Regions from separate parts of the Homo sapiens genome. Here region 1 is linked to region 2. Evidence: fine-mapped expression QTL. A gene starts in region 2. The other region holds a variant in brackets. All regions are shown on one strand. Distances are between the middles of the regions.

Region 1 (2,908 bases), 26 kb before region 2:
AATAGAAACAGCCAGGCGTGGTGGCTCACACCTGTAATCCCAGCACTTTGGGAGGCCCAGGCAGGCGGATCACAAGGTCAGGAGATTGAGACCATCCTGGCCGACATGGTGAAACCCTGTCTCTACTAAAATACAAAAAAATTAGCTGGGCGTGGTGGCGCACGCCTGTAGTCCCAACTACTCGGGAGGCTGAGGCAGGGGAATCACTTGAACCCGGGAGGTGGAGCTTGCAGTGAGCCGAGATTGCACCACTGCACTCCAGCCTGGCGACAGAGCGAGACTCCATCTCAAAAAAAAAAAAAAAAGAAGAAGGAAATAGAAACAATAACAAGCATAAAGCTTGAAAAAAAAAAACAGTAAAAGTTTCCAAAACATAGTGTTTATTTCTAGGAGTCTAAGTTTTCTGCTATAAAAATGGAAATAAATAAATATATATATATGAGTATATATGAGTAATACCATATATGTAGAGAGAGAGAGGGAGAGAGAGAAAAAGAGAGAGAGAGAGAGGGAGAAAGGTCTTGCTCTGTCACCCAGGCTGCAGTGCAGTGGCAGGATCATAGCTCACTGAAACCTCAAACTCCTGGACTTGAGGAATCTTCCCACCTCAGCCTCCTGAGTAGCTGGGACTACAGGCGCGTGCCACCATGCCCAGCGAATTTTTTATTTTTGTAGAGACAGGGCCTCACTCAGTTGCCCAGGCTAGTCTTGAACTTCTGGCTCAAGTAATCTTCCAGCCTTGCCCCACCCCTCCCCCCGCCCCCGCAAAGTGCAGGATTACAGGTATGAGCCAACACACCGGCCTACTCTTATATTAAAAAAAAAAAAAAAATGCCTATCAGGAGTGAAAGGATTAGGTGTGGTGCCCAAGAGACGCAGGGATTCTTTTTGGGGTGACGAAAATGTCCTTAAATTGCTTGAGGTGATGGTTGCCCAATTCTGTGAGTATACTAAAAGCTCTTGAATTGTACGCTTTAAATGAGTAAATTATTGGCTAAGAAAGTAGATTTTATGTGTTCTCACCACAAAAAAAATAAGTACATGAGGTAATGCATATGTTAATTAGCTCAATTTAGCCATTCCACAATGTATATGTATTTTAAAACATCACATTGTACACCATAAATATACACAATTTGTATTTGTTAATTTTAAAAAGAAAAAATAGTGGCAAGGTTATAACTTAATCAGTGTCCAGAACAAACATTATGTCACCCTTTAAAAATGTACCATTCACATTGATTTATAACCCTTTATTATTTCTAAATAAGGTGGTGAGAAAATGTTGGGTGAGGGGTTGGGTAGGAGTAAATGGAGCAAAGCAGATCCCAGAACCAGAAGACATTAGTAGTATATGGAGAGAGACACTCAACAGGAGCTGTGGGCTGGAACAGAAGGACCCAGCCAACTGTAGGACTAATCCCTTCAAGCTTACTCCCCCGCTGCCCTCTCCTCTTCTGCCAACGTGCCCACTGACAGAAACCAACCAGCAGCAAAAGGTAAGGGGACCCCAACAACACAGCTCAGAGAAGTCAGCCTTTCAGGCAGCAGAGTGGAGCAGAGAAGGGTAGAAAACCAATTTTTGCAACATCCAGTATAATATACGTGCGTGCTTCAAGGGGTCAAGGAGAGGAATCAATGATTCCTCCTCCTTCCCTGCTCTTCCAAGGCGCCCTGCTCACATCCTGCACCTGCTCTGCCTTCTC[A/G]GAGCTGCCCTTCTCGGCACAGCTGAACACCTTGACCGAAGGAGCCAGTGTCCATCTTCCTGTCCCCGGAAGGCTTGAAGGCATTCTCACCACGTCTTGGTTCTGAGGGTATGACGCCCAGCCAGCAGCCATGATATTCTCCCCGAAGGGCCTCCCAGGACCTGCTCACACTGGCCGGGAGATGCTGGGAACCCAAGGCAGCCTGGTCATTAGAAAATGACGGCTCAGGACTCGGGCAGCTACACCGTCGTGCTGGAAACCAGCAGGGGACACAGGAGTGTGACGGAGCAGATCCATGTCAAGAGTGAGTGGGGCCCCGCAGTGGGAGGGGCTGACTTCTCAGAAAGCAGACCCACTGGACCTCAGAAGAGCCCACCAGGACACTTTGCATGCTGGTTATCCATTGCTCCCCAATAAACCACCCCAAAACTTAAAACATCAATCACTTATCTAGCTGGACAGTTGTTGTGTTCAGCTGTTGGGGTGTCTGGGTGTTGGCTGGTCCAGAATGACCTCCTTCATGTGCCTGGCCATGGACCAGCTGGTGGCTGGAGTGATGGGGATGAGTGGGCCACATAGCCTCCCAACCTCCAGCAGGCTATCCCAGGCTTGTTCACTCAGCAATGGAAGAGGAACAAGAGGTAAAGCTGCAAAACTCCTTCAGGCCCAGGCTCAAAACTGACCACCATCACTTCTGCCACCTTCTATTGGTCAAAGCAAGTCACATGGCCAGCCCAGCTTCAACAGGAAGGAAAAAGGCCCCACCTCTTAAGGAGAGGAGTTGCAATGTGTTGTGGCTATTTTTTGTCGTTGTGTTAGATTGTTCTTCCATTGCTATAAAGACATACCTGAGACTGGGTTATTTATTTAAAAAAAAAAAAAAAAGAAGAAGACGTTTGATTGGCTCATGGTTCCACAGGTGGAAGTGTAATGCCAGCATCTGCTCAGCTTCTAAGGAGCCCTCAGGGAGCTTTTAATCATAGCGAAGGCAAAGGAGGAGCAGGTGTCTCCCGTGAGAACAGGAGCAAGAGAAAGAGAGAGTCAGAGAGGAAGTGCCACATTTTACAACAATCAGATCTCATGAGAACTCACTACCATGAGGACAGCGTCAAGCCATAAGGGATCCGCCCCTGTGGCCCAAACACCTTTACTGAGGCCCCACCACCAACACTGGGGATCGCATTTCAACATGAGATTTTGGC
Region 2 (2,857 bases):
GGTGGGAGGATCGCTTGCGGCCAGGAATTCAAGGCCAGCCTGAGCAACATAGCGAGATCCTATCTCTACAACAAATTTAAAAACTAGCTGGGTGTGATCACATATGCCTGTGGTCCCAACTACCCAGGAGGCTGAGGCAGGAGTTGAGCCCAGGAGGTGGAGGCTGCAATGAGCAATGATGGCGCCACTTCACTCCAGCCTCAGTGAAATAGTGAGACCCTGTCTAAAAATAATAATAAAAATAAAAAACATATAAAGATGTCAGAGCACAGGGACCAGAGCTGTTAGTCGGCCTCATGGAGACCCTGGCCAGGACAGCCACCTCTGGGGACCAGGAAGTCTCTCAGTTTCTGTCTCTGAGGGTTTGGCTCTCTGAGTCTCTCTGTCACCTCTCATTTCTCTCTCATCTCCCTCTGTCTATGCTGTGTCTCTATCTCTTTCAATCTCTCTGTCTCTGTCTCCCAGCCCTTATCTCTGAGTGTGTCTGTTTCTCTCTCATTTCTCTCTCTCTCTCTCTCTCTTTCTCTCTCTCTCTTTCTCTCTCTCTCTTTCTCTCTCCCCCCTCCCTCCTCCCCTCTCCCTACTGCAGGCTGGTCCATAACCCTTATCTTCCCCAGACCTGATGGAGTTCTGGTATTAATCTGTTTATGGTCTGTTTCCCTCCACTAGAACACGGTCTTCATTAAAGGCAGAGATTTTTGTCTGTCTTATTTTCTGCTGTATACCCAGTGCCTGGGATACTGGCTGGATCAATAAATATATGCTGAATGAAGAATGAATGAATGACCATTCTCATGAACATTATTATTTGATGCCAACTGTAAAGCAACAATAATAATAATTGTCACTGCCACTGCTGCTATTGTTGGTATATCAGCTTTTTATTTAGTACAAACTATATCCCCGAAATTGAGCTAGGCAGTTTCTTGTTTAAGTTTTACAGACCACGCTGTGAGGTAAGTACTGTTAGTATGCCCTTTTTTCTTTCTTTTTGAGACAGAGTCTCACTCTGTCGCCCAGGCTGGAGTGCAGAGGCCCGATCTTGGCTCACTGCAACCTCTGCCTCCCGGGTACAAGTGATTTTCCTGTCTTAGCCTCCCCAGTAGCTGGGATTACAGGCATGTGCCACCATGCCGGCTAATTTTTGTATTTTTAGTAAAGATGGGTTTTTGCCATGTTGGCCAGGCTGGTCTTGAACTCCTGGACCTCTGGTGATCCTCCTGCCTCGGCCTCCCAAAGTGCTGGGATTACAGGCGTCAGCCACTGCGCTTGCTCCCCCAGCCCCCAAACTTTTTTTTTTTTTTTTGAGACAGGTCTGGCTCTGCCACCCAAGCTGTAGTGTAGTGGCGCAATGGTAGCTCACTGAAGCCTCTAACTCCTGGGTTCACACAGTCCTCCTGCCTCAGCCTCCCAAAATGCTGGAATTCAGGCCTGAGCCACCGCGCCCTACTATGCCCATTTTTCAGATAAAGAATCTGAGGGCCCTCGAGGAGAAACCACTTGCCCAACATGAGCCCTGGTCTTGTCTGACCCCAAAGCCCATGGGAAGTTTAGGCTGCGTGGAAGGACAGCCTGGTGGGCTCAGGATCTGTCCCATCACGAGTTGGAACCTCAGCTCTGCCACTCGGCAACCGCGAGCCGTTAGTAAGTTGCTGAATCTCTCCGTGTGCCTCCGTTTCCTCACCTGGAATGTGGGCGACCTCACACAGGAAGCCGCCTCTTCTAGTGGGCACCGACGGAGCGAGCGCGCGTCTGCAGCGGGACTGAGCGCCGGGAGAGACCTGCGCAGGCGCAGGCGCGCGGGGAGGGCCAGCCTGGGTGGCCCACCCCGCGCCTGGCGGGACTGGCCGCCAACTCCCCTCCGCTCCAGTCACTTGTCTGGAGCTTGAAGAAGTGGGTATTCCCCTTCCCACCCCAGGCACTGGAGGAGCGGCCCCCCGGGGATTCCAGGACCTGAGCTCCGGGAGCTGGACTCGCAGCGACCGCGGCAGAGCGAGCGGGCGCCGGGAAGCGAGGAGACGCCCGCGGGAGGCCCAGCTGCTCGGAGCAACTGGCATGGCCCGAGCCATGGCCGCCGCGTGGCCGCTGCTGCTGGTGGCGCTACTGGTGCTGTCCTGGCCACCCCCAGGAACCGGTGAGTGACCCCCGCGCAGTCCGGTGGCCCCTGTCTGGCTCCCAGCTCCGCATCCAGGCCGGGTACTCGCCCCCTTGGGTTCCCGAAGATGACGGCCCCGCCCGGCGCCACCCACCCCCCATCTCTGCCCCGGGGTTGGAAGGAACACGGTGCGAGGGTGCGAGGGCAGGACCCTCCTCTTGGCCACCCGGAGAGCGGTCGGAGTTGGGTACAGAAATTCCTCGAAATTGGCAGCAACACGGGTCGGGCACAAGACCCTCCTCTGGGCCCCTCGGAAAGGGGATGGAGTTGGGTGAGGAAATTTCCCAAAAAGGCAAGTGAATCCCGGAAAATCAGCAGATGGTGACGCATGCCGGATTACCTTACCCAGGTTCCTGCTCAGCATACCCAGGCCATAACCCAGCAGCGTGCTGGCAGGCTGGGTCTGGACGGAGGGGATGGTTGATGTTGGGGAGGAGGACAGTGGGTGACACTTGACACCATTACCCCTCTGACCCCCAATGTCTGACTCCAGGGGCCTGGCCATTCATTCATTCTTTCATTCTTTTTTTTTTTTTTTTGAGACAGTCTCACTCCATCACCCAGGCTGGAGTGCAGTGTCCTGCTCTCGGCTCACTGCAGCCTCCTCCTCCCGAGTTCAAGCGATTCTCCTGCTTCAGCCTCCCGAGTAGCTCGGATTACAGACATGTGCCACTATGCCTGGCTAATATTTTTGTATTTTTA

The links. PIP is the estimated chance that this variant, and not a neighbour inherited with it, causes the effect.
Region 1: its variant is fine-mapped to the expression of PVR in whole blood (GTEx, PIP above 0.99).

Annotation. Positions count from the first base shown.
Region 1 is chr19:44,616,407-44,619,314 of GRCh38, forward strand. All of the region lies in intron 1 of IGSF23 (immunoglobulin superfamily member 23), which reads left to right. Among named protein-coding and RNA genes, the nearest start is that of IGSF23, 4.3 kb to the left of the region's middle. The variant A/G (reference allele first, on the strand shown) is at 1,707.
Region 2 is chr19:44,642,042-44,644,898 of GRCh38, forward strand. It overlaps PVR (PVR cell adhesion molecule), which reads left to right and starts at 1,869. Exons shown (of 8, transcript NM_006505.5): 1 at 1,869-2,134. The coding sequence starts at 2,056. RefSeq lists a silencer at 1,821-1,900.